Homo sapiens: one gene and its partners. The protein of the gene in region 1 purifies or fractionates together with the protein of each later gene. This does not show direct contact. Each region holds a gene or a part of one and is shown in the gene's direction. Other genes may lie near its edges.

Region 1 (4,960 bases):
TGTGTGTTGCTTTCTTATAGGGAGGAACTGGCCATGAGGCTGGACTTGACCGAGGCCCGAGTCCAGGTGAGCTGCACAACAGAGGGAAGAGGGAGGGAGGAGGGCTGGGGGCCAGTGGGAGAGAGAGAGATGGGTTGGTGGCGGGGGGGTGCGGGGGGTGAGATCCCCTTCACAAAACCAAGAGAAGCAGGATCAGAAAAGTAGACCCAAGCACTCTCTCACACACAAAGATATTTAAAACTTAAGACATGGGAGGTGGAAGCGGGAGGTTTCTGGGTTTGGGAGCCCAAGGAAGGAGTCCAGGATCAGAACAAGGGCTTTAGAGTCCCTGAGACTGCAGTTTGGGACCCCCTAGCCCCAAAGCTCCTATAGGAAACAATCCACCGATCTACTTCTCCTGATTGAAATAATGGGATGGAGCATGGATTTGGTTGTTAGACAAATCCGCTCAGTTCCAAGCAGGTATTTGGCTGCGATTAAGTCTCCAATCGGGCTTCATAAAAGCCCACTTAGTGCTAGAACAAACAGGGCCATTTGAAGGCAAAATGCTGTTTGATTTCCCCTCCGCCCCGCACAAGGAGCTGGCTAATGCTATTTGATTTCCCATTTTTTATAGCAATGAACCCACATTGATCTAATAGGGAGTGAGTGCAATGCTATTAAAGGTGTTTGCAGCCCCATACCAGAGTGCATTTCCGAACCCAGGCCTCATAACCAAAGAGACGATCAACACTGAGCAGCCCCGATGGCCAACAGAAAACAGATGTCCCCGAGTTAGGAGCTGAGTGAATCACTTTACAGTCAAAATCAAGCGCTGATAAAGCACAATAAATTCCATATGGCTCATTTAATACACAACAGCTTCTTGCATTAGAGGGCTAATGATGAGGCCTGTCCCCTCCTTTCTGTTGACACATTTCTCCATTGTCAAACAGAGATGTGACAGCAACTCCGTATTTTCAGCTCAGGGGAACAAGTCGTGGGAAAGTTAAATAACTTTTAAAAAGAAAGAGAGCGCCCCCTCCCTTTCTCCTCTCCCCCTATTCACTGGAGAAGATGTAATTAAGTGAATATGAATTATTAGAGTCCTTTCGTTTACCTTTGGGGGGCCTCAGAGGTATTAATTCAATAATGAGGAATTGCAGGGGGACATCTTGATAATTGCAGTTGAGCCGGGAGAGACGATCTGTCTGTAAAAAGGTTTCCACGTTCTTTGAGGGCATTCTGAGTCCACTGCCCCCAGTTCCCCTTCTTCTTTCACTGCGATCAAGGAGTGGCGGATATTCTTGTCTAGACAGATTTGGCTACACAAAAGCTGCCCACCCAGTCCGGTCCCATCTACAGTCTTACTTTTTCAAGCCTCTGGGTTTCCACACTGAAGTGTTTCTGAAATTCACAAATAGATTATTTTGAAGGCTGTGGAATGGTGTGAATGGGCCCCCTTTTGGCCGACTTGGAAGTAATTGACCGATTTGGATTCTTGATTTTTCTTGCCCTGGGGGGCTGTCTAGAAGTCAAACCAAGCTTAGATGCTAGTGCTGGTAACAACAAGCCCCAGTGTGTAGATTTGAAAAATATGGATGTGTTTCACATTTTAAAATATATTCCTCTGGGATAATTTACATTATATTTTAATATAACTCTGTATAGCCCTGGAGTTCATTCTTAATTTTCAGACTTGTGTGCAGTTATAAACCCAGCCCTAAAAATATTAATGCCTTCAGGGGAGAAGGAGCATATCTTCCCAGCTGTGGGTGTGATGAGCAGGTCACATAAAAATAATTTCATGCTCCTGGGGTTTATTTTTAGATGATGGTAGCTGCCATGTTTCAGGTAAAGGTCTCCATTAAAACCGCTTTCTATTAGCAATTAGGAAAATACCTCAGGCTGAAAACCTCCCTCCAAGCCTAAAACTATCTTATTTAAATAGCCGATTTAAAACACATCTCCAAAAGGAAATAAAAGACTTGTTAGCTCTGAAGATGTGAAAAGTCTACACCTATCATGCCCTCTGATTTCTATGCGCCCAGGTATTGCTGCCTGCTTCATCCATGTAGTCAGTGCCTTCCTGCATAGAACTGGGTCCTGCAGGGATCCCCTGCCAAGAGCAGGTTGTGTATCCCTGTTTCATTTCATAGAGGATTGACCCCCTGAAATGTATGCTTGCTAATTAACTCGAGCCTTTCTTCCCTCCCTCTCATCCCTCTCTGAACCCCAGAACCCAGCATAGTGCTCTTTGGTGTTCAATAAATGTTTCTGGAAAGAATAAATGAACTATCTTTCCACTTTCCTCTTCCATACAGAGCAAGAATTTTGCCAGCTCTTGCGTAAATCTGAAATAGGTGAAAATAGCTGATATGCAGTAAAACAAGCATGTCCCTCATCTCTTGGTGGCTGCCCATTCCCTAGAGTCACCATTGAATGCATGCTTTCACTTGCCTTATTTTACCCAGTTCTCATAACAGCCTTATGAGTGAAGTTTTATTATCCCCATTTTACAGATTCGAAAACTGAGGTTCAGAGAGGTTTAAGTGACCTGCCTAAAGATCCTAGCAAGCGTCAGCACAGACGTTTAAACTTTGGTTTCCCCAACTCTAAACACACTGAATCACTTTCCTTAAACTTGGAAAACTGGCCCAGGTGGAATGCCGGCAGAAAGGGTTTGCTTGTCCTGTTTCCTGCTGACTTGAAGTTGCGGCTCCTATTCACTGCTCATTTGGCCCCAGACGCGTCCGAAAACAACCTGAGGCCAAAGAGGGGCAGGTGGGCGCGGGCCGCGGTGGAAAGGAAGGGGGCCCCGCAGCGCGCCAAGGGAAGGGACGGGTAGGGGCCCGGTGCGCCCGCCGGGCCGAGCCGCGCCGACCCTGGGCTCTCTCTGCCTTGCAGGTCTGGTTCCAGAACCGTCGGGCCAAGTGGCGCAAGCGGGAGAAGGCAGGCGCGCAGACCCACCCCCCTGGGCTGCCCTTCCCGGGGCCGCTCTCCGCCACCCACCCGCTCAGCCCCTACCTGGACGCCAGCCCCTTCCCTCCGCACCACCCGGCGCTCGACTCCGCTTGGACTGCCGCTGCCGCCGCCGCCGCCGCCGCCTTCCCGAGCCTACCTCCGCCTCCGGGCTCGGCCAGCCTGCCGCCCAGCGGGGCGCCGCTGGGCCTGAGCACTTTCCTCGGAGCGGCAGTGTTCCGACACCCAGCTTTCATCAGCCCGGCATTCGGCAGGTAACGCGCAGCCTCGGAAGTCTGTCTGTCTGTCTGTCTCTCATACACACAGAGGCTGGGGGCAGGGAGGAGGCAGGAGTCAAACAGGGTTACACACATCTTTTTCTTTGACCCAACCTCAGAGACTGTAGCCAAAGAAAATACTCTCTAATTGAGCCTCAAAAAAAAAAATGTGGGTCTTGAAGGTATTGACTTGGAACTTAATGGGAAAGGGGAAGGCAGTGGCAGTAACGACAACCGTGACAACCGAGAATGAAAGCTGTAAAAGTACCATTTGCAGGCTGCAACAAGTCCCACCATAGGTGGTAAGCGAGCAAATATGTACAGGTGTAGGGTACAGAGCAGGGACGACTTTTTAAGTTTTGCAAAAGTTCTTCCTTATGCCCCCCAACCTGGCAGCCTGAGGAACACAGCCCTGATCCCCATGGGAGCCCTGGAGCCACCAGGCCCTCTGGGTGCACAGAATTCTTTCTTCTGCCCCAGACTCCATCTTCCTTGTCACTCAAGTGACCCGCTGCCAACGACACCCCCATATGTGCAAGCCCCGATCTACACGGCAGTACAAGACAACGAAATAAAAGAAACAGTTCATCTTATAACTCCCTTTCTTTAATGAACATCGAATGAGGAAATAAAAAGTCTGTATAATCACACAGACAAAGAAACAAAGGAGGGATGTATTGTGTTAGCGCAGTGAAAATAAAACTGGATGCAGCTTCAATGATCACTCTTTGGGAGAACAAAGAAATAATAGATTCATCCAACTGCGCAGCTGCTTAACAAAAAATCATCTTACAGAAAATTAAGACTCGGAGTAAATTTAGTTTCTTATAACAAACCAATAAAATAAACAGCGAGCGCACTGAAGCAGAGTTAGTGACTCAGTTTACCTAATGGAACCAGGGCATGTTACGCCACCTCCGGGTCACACTTTATCATTTCTTTCTGAGAAAAATCTTAAAGTTCTGTCTCTCCCCTCCCTCCACTTTTTCCCTCTGACAAGTGACTTGTAAACCCAGGCGAACCGTGGCTGGAGGACCGAGTTGCGAGATTCGGAGAGGCTGGAAGAGGGTCTGGGCTGGGGTGGTGCGAGGAGTGAGCAGTGGGCTTGGGAGAAGGAGGCGGCGCTCGGTGAGCCCAGGTGGGCTCATTTCTAACCCTGGAAATCCGGAATTGGCCCCGCGGGCCTGGAGCCAGACCCCTCAGGGAGGCGGTCGGGAAAGCTCGCGGGCGCTCCAAGGCGGTGGGCGTGGGGGTGGTGTCCGGTGGCCCCGGGCGGCTCCGGCCACAGCTAATGTCCCGGTGCTGTGTGCATGGGGTGGAAGCGTCACGTGGAGTAATTCGGTCGCCGCTTGGAGGCGGTGGCGCTGGCGTGGGTCCCAGGCTTGGGCATCGCCTTGCGCCGCGCGCCAGGGTCGTGGGTCGGGGGCTCCCTGAGGCCAGAGGCTACAGGGGCGCGGGGAAGACAGCTGGGGTCGCCGCGCCAGGATGTGGGGCTGCTGGCAGGTGACACCCGCCCGTGGAGCCGAAATCAACAGGCGGTCGCCCTTCACTCTCACCCGCAGGCGCTGGCCAGACGCGGGTAGCTGAGTCCCGCGCGGAAGGGCGGCCGCGGCGGCGCGGGTGGCCCGGGAGGCCGGCGAGCTAGGCCTGTTTCTTCAGGGCGCAGAAAGTCCCGGGCCAAGGAGCCGGAGGGAGATCTCAGAGCCTGCGGCGTGCGTCCGGGCAGCTGGAATCCCACCTTC
Region 2 (4,230 bases), on another chromosome or scaffold:
GGCTGCTTAAAATAAAAACACTCTTTCTTATTAATTAGTGTGTATTTGAGATTTAATTTCAGTCAATTATAAAATTGATTTTCTAAAAAGAAAATAACAAGAATATATTTGTTTTCTTATGTTTTGGGGCTATAGGAAATTTATTTGAGACTGTAATATGATTTTGAACAGAATTTAAATTCAAATTTAACTCCCTTTAATCTTTTTTTGACTATAGGTTTCAAGAGTTCTTTTTATTTTAGTAAATTAGGACTTTCTCTGTGAGCTGCCTGTTGAAATAGCACCACATGCAATGCATTAACTGTTTTAGGATTATTTGTGCTATTAAGTTGAATGTCCATTCACATTCATTATAGGTCTCTTTTTTCTTTGGGGATGAATATTTTTTCAGGTAATTCTTTCAGAATCAGCTAACAGGATATTCCTCGCTGAGAGCGGAAGGAAAATTTTATCAGCTTTAATTGTGAAAGCACGAAAGGTAAACTTGTTCTGTTGGCAAGATTTTTACCATTTACAAAAGTTGTTTTTACCCTTTGAACTGAAGATTAAGACATTAAATTTTTGATAGAAGAAAAATTTTTGTGGATAGTTGAAAAGGGCATTAAGTTATGCTCGGGTTGAACTATGTATAAAGTCCACACTATTTCAACCAAGTTGTTTCTCATAAATTATTTCCAGTTTGCCATAAACTCTGTAAATGTCATGGTGAGAATTATCATTAGATCTGCTGCTATAACCATCACTGTTATTATTACTAATGCCTCCTCTTTTATTACCTCAATCCTGTTCAGGAAGAGGGTTACAGGAAATAGCGTAGGTCTCAGAAATCTGGAATACAAATTGAACTGCCTCATCTTCATGTAGTTGAATGAGGCAGAAGCAATGACAAGAACTTCATTCAGACTGTAAGGAACCACCTTACTTTATGCAAGGTTTGTCCAGATGATGATAAAACAAAACAAGCCTTCCTTGAGCCATTTGCACACCTAGTTTTCAGACTCAATCCCTTTGAACTTTAATTCTTTCATTTATATAATAGAATTGTATTTATATTACCTCATTTCAGAGGGTTTTTAGGATGATTAAATAAATGATAAATGGGAAGCAACTTAAAGAATAAAGTGTTAAGTAGTGTAAAGCTAAGTATATGTAAGGTGATACTATTAATACATGCAATTCCCAATGTAAGTCTTGTGTTGCTTTCTTGGCCTTCTCATGACAGATAAACTCAGTGATTTGAACTAGGGTTCCTCCAAAAGAAGCAGAACTGCAACAAAAGCCTCACATAATGTCTGCTATAACCAAATTTTCATTTTAATTACTGACCAAAATAGGCATACATATTTGAGTAATAAATAGTTTGCTTGTGACATTTTACTGACATTCTTTATCTTGGCTTCTGCAAAATGTTGCAATAGCAAAGTAGTAAACCAGATAAATTTGGCATACCTTTAAAATGTATTTTAGTTCAGTTACCTAGTAGAATTAAGATCTACCAGACTTATTTGAAGAGTAACTTTCTTTGTAGCTTGTTATAAAGTTGAGTTTAGGGTTAAAATGTGTTTTCTTCTTCAGAATCCAAAGAAGTTTGAAGATGTTTTTGATGAAATGATCTATTTTTTAGAGCAGACCGATCACTGGGGTAGTACTGAAATGGAACTTGCTGCTAGAGGGGTAAATTCAAATTTTTTGTGATATTTATTTTTCTTAGTTATTTGCATGTAATTTTATATGAGTTGAGACTACTGTTTCATTGTCCTTGTTAAATAAAGCCAATTGTATGGTTGTGGGACATCTTTTTTTCTGACGAAGTCATAAACCACACTCCTTGTACGTTGGGGCAGTAGTTGTAAATTGTTTTCTAAGAAGCCTTTTTTGCTGTTGTTGGCTCCTTGCTTCCTTCCCTCCTGTCCTCCTTCCCTTGTTCCCTCTCTTCCTTCTCTCCAAAAGTCATTGGCAGGCCCCTAGCAGGACAGGAATGGTGGCCCATGCAAGGACAGCTTTGGGTAGTACAACAGCAGCAGCTCAGTAGGGCTGGGGAATTGGCTGTATACACAAGACTGAACAAATAAGTATACTGAGAAAAATCAGAGCCAGCTTTTCCCTGTGAGAGAAGGGAGGTATAAAATGCTGGGATTGGAATTGGAGCTGTCAGTGTGAGTTCACAGTTTATAATATATATGTAGATACAGATATAGAAATAAATATCGGTCCAGGCATGGTGGCTCACGCCTGTAATCCCAGCACTTTGGGAGGCTGAGGCGGGCGGATCACCTGAGGTCAGGAGTTTGAGACCAACCTAGCCAACATGGAAAAACCTTGTCTCTACTGAAAATACAAAAATTAGCTGGGTATAGTGGCTCACGCCTGTAATCCCAACTACTCGGGAGGCCAAGGAACGAGAATTGCTTGAACCTGGGAGGTGGAGGCGGCAGTGAGCCAAGATCGTGCCACTGTACTCCAGCCTGGGTGACAGAACGAGACTCTGTCTCAAAAAATATATAGATATAGATATTGGTCAGGCATGGTGGCTCACGCCTGTAATCCCAGCACTTTGGGAGGCTGAGGCGGGCGGATCACCTGAGGTCAGGAGTTCGAGACCAACCTAGCCAACATGGCAAAACCTCATCTCTACTGAAAATACAAAAATTAGCCAGGTGTAGTGGCTCACGCCTGTAATCCCAACTACTCGGGAGGCCAAGGAATGAGAATTGCTTGAACCTGGGAGGTGGAGGTGGCAGAGAGTCAAGATCGCGCCACTGTACTCCAGCCTGGGTGACAGAACAAGACTCTGGCTCAAAAAATATATAGATATAGATATCGGTCCGGCATGGTGGCTCACGCCTGTAATCCCAGCACTTTGGGAGGCTGAGACGGGCAGATCGTGAGGTCAGGAGTTTAAGACCAGCCTGACCAACATGGTGAAACCTGTCTCTACTAAAAATACAAAAATTAGCCAGGCATGGAGCGCATGCCTGTAATCCCAGCCTGGGTGGCAGAGCGAGACTCCGTCACACACACACACAAAAGGAATGAAATCCCAGCACTTTGGGAGGCCGAGGCGGGCAGATCACTTGAGGCCAGGAGTTTGAGATCAGCCAGGCCAACATGGTGAAGCCCTGTCTCCACTAAAAATACAAAAATTAGCCAGGCATGGTGGTGCATGCCTGTAATCCCAGCTACTCAGGAGGGTGAGGCAAGAGAATCACTTGAACCCAGGAGGTGGAGGCTGCAGTAAGCCGAGATCGTGCCAGTGCACTCCAGCCTGGGTGACAGAGCAAGACTCTGTCTCAGAAGCAAAAAAAAAAAAAAAGAGTGAGTTTACAAGCAGCTGAAAGGCCTTCTAGGCAGAGAAAACAGTGGATACAACAAATACATGAAGACTTAATTTTTCCTTTTCTAGTGTTCCCTTATTCAGGAAATGAAATCAGTATCCATTTACTTCTGCAGGCCAGCAACCTGAGACTCATCCTTCACCTCTCCCTGATGCTCACCCATTTTATCATATTCATCTCTAATTTTGTCAGTTTTAACTCCTAAATATCTTTCAGTTTCTTCGACTTTTCTCTCTTTCTGTCACCCCTCTTGGCCTAAGTGCCTGTTGTCTTTTCTCTGGGCTACATCAGTAGTCTTTATATTTCCCGATTCCCTGCTCACTCCTTTCCTCCCTGCATTCATTCTTTCCCCTGTTTCATTCTCCACATTTCTGCCAAAATGATACAGCACACTATACTTTTTCCTTTATTGTGCTTCACACAGTTCATAATTGGATATTTGCAGGATTATTTTGTTGCTGTTTTCCCCACTATACTCTAGGCGTCTAATTTGCTTACTCTAGAAGTTTGAGCACTTGGTACAGCATGTAGTATGTAGAGTGTGTATGTATGAATGAATGAAAGAGCAAGATGTTCATGATCTGGTGGGGAAGACAGGCACATATACCAGTAACTAAATAACAAGGCAGAATGAGCATCCTGGATGTTATAATAGAAGCGTGAACAAAGGACTCCTAGAATAGAGAGGAGGAGAGATTATTTTCACTTGAGATCTAGGAAGGAGCAGCGATAATGTGAATTCGTAATTTCTAGTGGCGAGCTTTCATATTTATCTCTCCTTTTATTTTTTATTTTTGAATAAGCTGATTAAAAAAAACCCCTGCTGTTATAAAACCATAAAGCCCTGGCTCAGATTTTATTTCAGCTCTATGTAATAATAATTTCTGTTTCAACT
Region 3 (4,230 bases), about 130 Mb from region 1:
TTTTAAAATCAGGAAGTGTGACTCTTCTATGTTCTTTTTCTAGATTGTTTTGGCTGTTTGAGATTCCTTGAAATTCCATGTGAATTTTAGGATGAATTTGTCTATTTCTGCAACAAATGTCATTGGGATTTTGGTAGGGATTCCATTGAATCTGTAGATTGCTTTAGATAGTATGCATTGCCATTTTAACAATTTAGTGTCTTCTAATCCATGAACACAGGATTAGGTTGTATTTTGATAGTTGGTGGTTTTTGAGAAATTGGTCCATTTCTTCCAAGTTGTCAAATATGTGAGCTAAAAAATGTTCATATTATTCCATTATTATTCTTTTAATGGTTACAAGATCTACAGTGTCCCATTTCAGTCCTTTTATTGGCATATCATCTTTTTTAACTTTTATGTTTGTTAGTAAGGCTAGCGGTTTATCCCTTTTTACTGTATAAATAAACTTTTGGTTTTATTGATTTTTTTTTAGTATTGCATTCTTATTTTCAGTTTCATGGATCTCTGCTCTTGTGTTTATTTTTTCCATCTGCTTGCTTTGGTTTTGTTTTTCTAGTATCTAGCTAGCTTCTTTTTCTAGCATCTTGAATTAGTAACTTAGATTATTGATTTGAGGCTCTTCTTCATGTCTAACTTATGCATTGAGTGCTATAAACTTCTCTCTGCACTGCTTTAGATCCCACATATTTTGCTATGTTGTGTTTTCATTTTCACACAGTTCTATGTATTTTTTAAAATTTCCTTTGAAACTTTTTCTTTGACCCTTGTTTTATTTAGAAATATGTTGTTTAATATCCAAATGTTTAGAGATTTTCTTGTTTTCTGTTGTTTCTTCTCTGTTTCTAATTTGAATTAAGTATAATCAATGATACCTCTCTGCATAATTTCAATACTTTTAAATTTGTTGAAGTTTATTTCCTGGTTCAGAATATGATCTCAGGTGAATATTCTGTGAGTGCTTAAACAATTGTTTACTCTGCTGTAATTGGCTGGTGTGTCCTGTTGTGCCAATTAAATCCCATTGGTTGATTATTGTTCACTCCTTCAATATCCTTGTAGATTTTCTGTCTAGTAGTTCTACCAATTGCTGAGAGTGGAGTGTTGAAGTCCCCAACTATAAATGTGCATTTGCTTATTTCTCCTTTTAGCTCTATCAGGTTTTACTTAATGTGTCTAGACACTCTATTGTTAGGTGCACACACATTCAGGATTGTTACGTCTTCCTGGTGGATTGATCCTTTTATCATTTTATAATATCCCTCTTCATTCCATCTGAGAACTGTTGGGTTATGACTTGACTTACTGTATTGTTTTTGTATTTTCTTTGCAGAAGATTCAGACCTACATTTCTTTGATCCACAGACAACACCAAAGGTCTATCGAAAAATGATAGGCAATACATTTTAAATGTCCCTAGGCAGTTTGGATATCACATTATTGCTCTGTAAAACTCATTTAGGTTTTTTCCCCAGATACATCGCTGTTTCTCTCCCAGGTGCTTGCTGTATACAGCACTGTCTCTGTCTTTTCCCTCTATTAACTTCAATAGTGGGAACAGTTACAGCACAGTCTTCTGAAGTTCAAGAGAAGAATCATTTGGAAAATTCATGAATGCCATCTGTGTAATTGGTGTGAAAGAAGTCCATATTTGAAAGGAATCTGGTTGAGCCCAGAGACCTGATGTTTATAATAGTAACCACAGTTATATAAAATTATATATGTGTGTGTTGTAAGCACTTTCCGTGTATAAGATACTACCACAGTCCACTGGGAATGCATCCTCAATCTGTCCATCCCTGGGCAGGATTAGCTATAGTTCAAGTGCCAGGTTGACAGTGGTGGAACCAAGGCTTGGAGCTCAAGCTCTAGAACTCCTCGGTCCATGTGGTCATCTCCCGCAGATCTGGGCTCAAGTCCCAGCTTTGCCACTTACCTGGCCACATGTGGGACTATGTCTGCCTCATAACCCCCATCCCCTGAAGAAAAGTGAACAGAACCCACCTCATTTAAGCCTTTTATATCTCTTTGTCATCCGTCTCAAAGTGATTCTGCAGAGGTCCTATAGGAGCCTCAAGGACCAAGACAAGAATATTCATGATGTGACTTCCCTGAGCCATGAATGGCTGCTGCATTTTGTTCCTAAATGTGCTCCCTTTGCTGTCCTCCCTTCCCCTTTTAGAGAGATGGAACCATGTAACCACCACGACCAAGAGGCCAGTAACCACCAGAGCTCCAGCAAATACTTTAGGTAAGGTGGCCGCTCTGAGGAGAGTAGTAAGGCAAGGATCCCATGGGGCTCCCTCTGAGACAGGATCCAAATGAGCTACCCATAGATGAACTAATTGAGTATTTCTTTTATTTTGGGACCCCATGAAGGAAATGATTTTGACTTGGCTGATGCCCTGGATGATCGAAATGATCGAGATGATGGCCGCAGGAAACCAATTGCTGGAGGAGGAGGTGAGTCCCACCTGGTCTGGTTCTGTCTCATTAATTACATCATCCCACAGAGCCAGAGCCAGCTTGGGCCTGGCAGAGCTGGAGGCACTTCAAGCCACTGGAGAACCCTATAATGGTGGTACTCAAACTTTTTTGGTCTGGGGACTCCTGAAATCATTGAGATCTCAAGAGAGATTTTGCTTATGTGGGTCACGTTTATCAATACTCATCATCTTAGAATTTAAAACTGAAAGACTTTATTAATCAATCTAAAATGAACAACATTAAACCCATACATTTAACATAAATAACATTTTTATGAGAAATAACTATGCTTGGCAAGACAAAAACTTGTATTGAGGAGAGCGGCACGCTGTTACATTTTTGCAGATTTCTCTCATGTCTGGCTGGATGGAAGCAGCTGGCTTCTCACAGGCACTTTATTCCATCGTGAGATGTTGTTTTGGTTGAAGTATATGAAGGAAATCTGGCCTCACACCCATAGGCAGTGGGGAAAGGGAGGAATATTTTCACAGACTTTTCAGATCCTTGTGGATAATCTTCTCGGATAGGACACCAAAACTTGGCCCCAACAAAAGCGGTTGTTTGTTACAGGTTAAGCGTAGTGTGGAGTGTGAAACTCTTATCAGTGAACTTTCCACACTTGGTTCCGTGGGACTATCTTGTCCTTTCAGTGGACCTTTTACCCGTTCATAAATTTTCTGCTTCCTTGTGTCAGTTTCCTTGCTGCATAACAAAAATCAGAAACTCTGAGTTAAGGCAACACCCATTTATTATCCCACTGTTTCCTTTGGTCCGGAGTTGAGGAACAGCTAAGCTGAGTTTTCTGCTCAGGAGCTCATATAGCTGCAGTCAAGGTGTTGGTGAGGGCTGGGGTCTCGTCTGAAGTTGGGTTCCCTTCCAAGCTCAATTGCTTGTTGACAGTACATTCCCTTGCAGCTATAGGAATAATGACTGCTTGCTGCTTCAAGACTAGCAGGAGAATGACCAACAGACGGGTTGGTAGGGGGAGAAAGGAGGAGAGACCGACCGACTCTGTTGCTTCTCATGTCTGAGCTCAGAGAAGGCCTGAACCTGCTTTTGAGGATGTCACCTGATTAAGTCATGCCCATCTAGGATAATCTCCTTTTTGATGAATGCAAAGTCAAATTGATTTGGTACCTTAATCACCTCTGCAAAATCCCTTCACCTTTGGCATGTAATCTAACCTAATCACGGGAGTGATATAGCCATCCTATCCATGGTTCCACTCACACTCAGAGTGGTGGGACATTATGCGGGACATGTACACCAGTGGGAGGGGGTCTGGGGGGACCTCTTAGAATTTCATGAAGGGCATTCTTAAGTGGAACTGGGAATCATTTTCTGAATTTTGGGCAACATTAGCACAAGTTTCTTGTTGCTGATTTTTTTTTCTTGTTGTTGAAATGTATGTTTTATTTTCTCCAGGTTTTTCAGACAAGGATCTTGAAGACATAGTAGGGGGTGGAGAATACAAACCTGACAAGGGTAAAGGTAGGAGCATTGATTTGTGCCAACACAACCCTTATTCTGGTGAAAAAGGTGATTATGCAGCAACCAGATTAATTGAGCCTCTGGGAAATGAGTGGTAGTTCCCAGACATCCCAGCCTGCCAGTTGGGGTTCATTTGGAATGATGTGAGCCATGCAGTTCAAGGGGGGGATTTATAAGCCATCTTGGAAAAGCCCCACATTTCCCCTGATGTTCCTTAAGCAGCAGTGCTGATAGGTTAACGTTTCATGCTGG
Region 4 (4,230 bases), on another chromosome or scaffold:
GTGAAATGGGGCAGCTGTTGTGGAAACAGTTTGGCAGCTCCTCAAAAAAATAAATGTAGAGGGTCCCATGGGACCCAGCAATTCCACTCCTTAGTACACAGACCTGAGAGAATTGAAACCATATCCACAGAAAAATCCACATGCAGATGTTCGAAGCAGCATTATTCATAACAGCCAAAAAAGTAGGACCAACCCAGGCATCCAGCAAATGATGATTGGGTAACGAAAATGCAGTCTATCCAAACAATGGTTTATTTTTGGCAATAAAAAGAAACACTACTGGGCGTGGTAGCTCACACCTGTGATCACAGCACTTTGGGAAGCCAAGGTGGGCGAATCACCTGAGGTCAGGAGTTTGAGCCCAGCCCGGCCAACATGGTGAAACCCCGTCTCTACAAAAAAATACAAAAATTAGCCAAGTATGGTGGTGCACACCTGTAATCCCAGCTACTTGGGAGGCTGAGGCAGGAGAATCGCCTGAACCCAGGAGGTGGAGGTTGCAGTGAGCCAAGATGGCACCACTGAAAACATTTTGCTCAGTGAGAGAGGCCATAACAAAAGGTCCCATGTCGTATGGTTCCATTTATATGAAATGACTATGACAGGCCAATGACAGAGGCGTGGTTGAGTGCTTCCCTAGGTGGGGCTGGGGAGGATGAGGGAAAGGGGAGAACCGCTAATGGGTACAGGTTGTTTTTTTTTTTGTTTTGTTTTGTTTTGTTTCTGAGACAGAGTTTTGCTCTTGTTGCCGAGGCAGGAGTGCAATGGTGCAATCTCGGCTCACTGCATCCTCTGCCTCTCGGGTTCAAGCAGTCCTCCTGTCTCAGCCTCCCGAGTAGCTGGGATTACAGGCGCCCGCCACCACGCCCGGCTAATTTTTGTATTTTTAGTAGAGACAGGGTTTCATCATATTAGTCAGGCTGGTCTCAAACTCCTGGCCTCAGGTGATCTGCCCGCCTCGGCCTCACAAAGTGCTGGGATTACAGGCGTGAGCCACTGCACCCGGCCGAGTACAGGTTCTTTTTTGGGACACCACTATATTTTAAGATTAGCTTGTGCTGGTTGTACAACATAACAGATCTACTAAAAACCACTGAAGTATACTGTTTAAAATAGTGAATTTTATGTTATGAGAAGTATCTCAGTTTTTAGAAATGCTATAAAGGGAAAAAGTTACTGCTGCGTCTTTACCACTCTGAGCTTCTATTGCTGTTACCTTATTAACTCTCCTGTTATAAGGGGGCTATTTATGTAAGTATAAATTAGTTCCATGAATGCCCTTGTCCCTAAATATGTCAAGAACTTATTTTTTGACTCTGCTGGCCAAAGAAAATGGCTTTCAGTACTAGACCAAGAAGATTTATTGCAATTGAGCAGCTTCTCTGGTAGAGATGACCATTTAATGGATGAGTCCTTTCTGTACAGCATTTTAAAATTTGTGTAACTAGACCAGCTTTCTCATTATCATTCTTAAATAAGGATCCTGACTGGGGAATGGCTTTAGAGAACCTCTCTCCTATTAATGATCTGTGTAGGTATCATTTGATGCTGTTTTTAATGAGGAAGCAAAATCCATCATCACTTATGTCCATAGTGATTTGGTGGAGGATGCGAACTGCTTGCCCTGTTCCCTTCAATCTGGCTGATGAATGGAGGGGCATGTGTAGCACTGGGGAAGATGGGGCCTAGGCTCGCTCTGAATGGAAGCCTGAGTATCTCTGTACATTGTTAAGCACTAGACAGTTCTCACAGTTCAAATTAAAATTTTCAGCCCAAGAAAGAGATTCCAGCTAGTCCTTCCAGGACAAAAATCCCAGCTGAGAAGGAATCCCACCGGGATGTTCTCCCTGACAAACCTGCCCCGGGTGCTGTCAATGTGCCGGCCGCCGGAAGCCACTTGGGCCAGGGCAAGCGGGCGATCCCTGTTCCAAACAAGGTGAGTTGGCTGCTGGGGCCCAAACTTGTGGTTGCTGGGAATGAGGTGGCAGCTGTGTGTACAAGTGCTTTGGATTAAAATCCCAGCATTTTGGGAGGCCAAGGTGGGAGGATCACTTGAGCCCAGGAGTTCAAGACCAGCCTGAGCAACATGATGAAACCCATCTCTACAAAAAATACAAAAATTAGCTGGGCATGGTGGTGAGCAACGGCAGTCCCAGCTACTCAGGAGGCTGAGGTGGGATGATTGCTTGAGCCCAGGAGGTCGAGGCTGCAGTGAGTCATAATCACGCCACTGCACTCCAGGTTGGGTGACAGAATGAGACCCTGTCTCAAAAAAAAAAAAAAAAAAGAGGTGGAAAAGTTGAAAATACACCCACAAGAGGCAGCCTGCAAAATACATGCAAAGAATACTGGCTTCGCAGTGTGCACTGATGGCTAGCCTCTGCCCTGGGAGCTGTGTGGGTTGGGAAAAGTCAGCGTCTCGGAGCCCCAGTTTGTAGGTGGGGATATTCCGTTTCCCTCATGTAGAGTTCTTGAACAGATGACATGAGATGTTGATGTTTTGAAAACAGCAGCTGGGTGCAGTGGCTCACACATGTAATCTCAGCACTTTGGGAGGCTGAGGCGGGAGGATCACTTGAGCCCAGGAGTTTGAGACCAGCCTGGGCAACATAGTGAGGCCCCCATCTCCATTAAAAAATAAAAATCAGCCAGGCATGGTGGTGCATGCCTGTGGTCCCAGCTATTTGGGAGGTTGAGGTGGGAGGATTGCTTGAGCCCAGGAGGTCAAGGCTGCAGTGAGCTGTGATCATGCCACTGCATTCCATTCCAGCCTGGGCAACAGAGTGAGACCCTGTCTAAAAAAAAAAAAAAAAAAAAGGAAAAGAAAGAAAATTGCGGTTCCTCACAGGCATGGAGACTACCAGCCACATCTTTGCCACTTATTTTCTGGCATTGGCGGTAAACCAAGCTGTGTGTACTGGCAGTTCTTGTTAGAACTGCCCAAAGCTGGGCCCTGCAGCTGCTGACTCATGGGGTCTGGGTTGGGGCCCCAAATCTGCATTTCTGCTAGCTCCCTAATGTGGTCCTCATGCAGGGGTTTGAAGACTACACTTTGAGAAGTGCTGCTTGACTTTTTTCTTCTTTAAATTCAAGATGATAATTATTAGATTATTTTAAAATAGTAAAAACACCAACTTTTGTTGTTGTTGTTGTTGTTGAGACGGAGTCTCACTCTGTCGCCCAGGCTGGAGTGCAATGGCACGAGCTCAGCTCACTACAACCTCCACCTCCCGGGTTCAAGCAATTCTCCTACCTCAGCCTCCCGAGTAGCTGGGACTACAGGTGCCTGCCACCATGCCCAGCTAGTTTTTATATTTTTAGTAGAGACAAGGTTTCACCATATTGGCCAGGCTGGTCTCAAACTCCTGACCTTGTGATCCTCCGGCCTCAGCCTCCCAAAGTGCTGGGATTACAGGCGTGAGCCACCGTGCCCAGCCAAAAACCCCTTACTTTTGCAGACACAAGTAATAGGTAAATAACGAGATCTTTGCTGATTCTGTTTTTTCACATTTTGCCCCAGTTGGGGCTGAAGAAGACCCTGTTAAAAGCACCCGGCTCTACCAGCAATCTCGCAAGGAAGTCCTCCTCGGGGCCTGTTTGGAGCGGGGCATCCAGTGCGTGCACATCCCCAGCAGTGGGCAAAGGTGAGGCAGCCGGCATCATGCTTGGACCCACATCTGGCCAGGTGAGGCCTGGAGTGCTGCTCAGGCCTTGGAGACTGTTTCTGCAGAACCACTTAGGCTTGGCAGGACGTCCCGGAGGGCGTGCTGTGTGCGGTGGACCAGGCTGTGGACTGAGTTGCTGTACCTGCCCTCAGTGCCTCTGTCCCATGAGGAGGGCACACTCAGATGGGTGGCTTCAGTCTACGGGGTACACATGGCCAGAAAGCATGTATGATACCCCGTGCCTGAGAACATGGACACTGGAATCACCCTCATGTCCATGTCATGAGACACCAGTTTTAAAATAGGACTATTCCAGATAATGTAGGGCATATGGCCCCATAACTCCTGGGTGCCTGTTTAAATCCATGCTCCCACACCTGTTTGAGGTCAAGCCACATTTCAACCTTGCCAAGCCACAGCTGCCATCTAGTGGTAAGGGAAAGCCTTCGCCTTTCTGCTCTTCAGAGCGAAATCCTCTTCGAGGTGCATTGGCCATGTGGCGTCTCGGGGTCGTTCAGGGCAGCATGGTGTGGATTGTGTTCACAAAATGTAAAAAGTGGGCCGG

What was found.
Region 2: the proteins of ARX (region 1) and MIGA1 purify together in Homo sapiens (affinity purification with mass spectrometry, with the first as the bait; one large-scale study listed by BioGRID). This does not show direct contact.
Region 3: the proteins of ARX (region 1) and CD99L2 purify together in Homo sapiens (affinity purification with mass spectrometry; one large-scale study listed by BioGRID and IntAct). This does not show direct contact.
Region 4: the proteins of ARX (region 1) and GTSE1 purify together in Homo sapiens (affinity purification with mass spectrometry; one large-scale study listed by BioGRID and IntAct). This does not show direct contact.

Annotation. Positions count from the first base shown.
Region 1 is NC_000023.11:25,005,366-25,010,325, reverse strand, and holds part of ARX (homeobox protein ARX), read left to right. Parts: intron 1-20; coding exon 21-66; intron 67-2,886; coding exon 2,887-3,215; intron 3,216-4,960. UniProt on the Homo sapiens protein: Transcription factor. Binds to specific sequence motif 5'-TAATTA-3' in regulatory elements of target genes, such as histone demethylase KDM5C. Positively modulates transcription of KDM5C.
Region 2 is NC_000001.11:77,859,649-77,863,878, forward strand, and holds part of MIGA1 (mitoguardin 1), read left to right. Parts: intron 1-391; coding exon 392-478; intron 479-1,575; coding exon 1,576-1,674; intron 1,675-4,230. UniProt on the Homo sapiens protein: Regulator of mitochondrial fusion: acts by forming homo- and heterodimers at the mitochondrial outer membrane and facilitating the formation of PLD6/MitoPLD dimers. May act by regulating phospholipid metabolism via PLD6/MitoPLD.
Region 3 is NC_000023.11:150,793,439-150,797,668, reverse strand, and holds part of CD99L2 (CD99 antigen-like protein 2 isoform 1 precursor), read left to right. Parts: intron 1-2,182; coding exon 2,183-2,251; intron 2,252-2,379; coding exon 2,380-2,463; intron 2,464-3,912; coding exon 3,913-3,978; intron 3,979-4,230. UniProt on the Homo sapiens protein: Plays a role in a late step of leukocyte extravasation helping cells to overcome the endothelial basement membrane. Acts at the same site as, but independently of, PECAM1.
Region 4 is NC_000022.11:46,310,370-46,314,599, forward strand, and holds part of GTSE1 (G2 and S phase-expressed protein 1), read left to right. Parts: intron 1-1,771; coding exon 1,772-1,936; intron 1,937-3,520; coding exon 3,521-3,644; intron 3,645-4,230. UniProt on the Homo sapiens protein: May be involved in p53-induced cell cycle arrest in G2/M phase by interfering with microtubule rearrangements that are required to enter mitosis. Overexpression delays G2/M phase progression.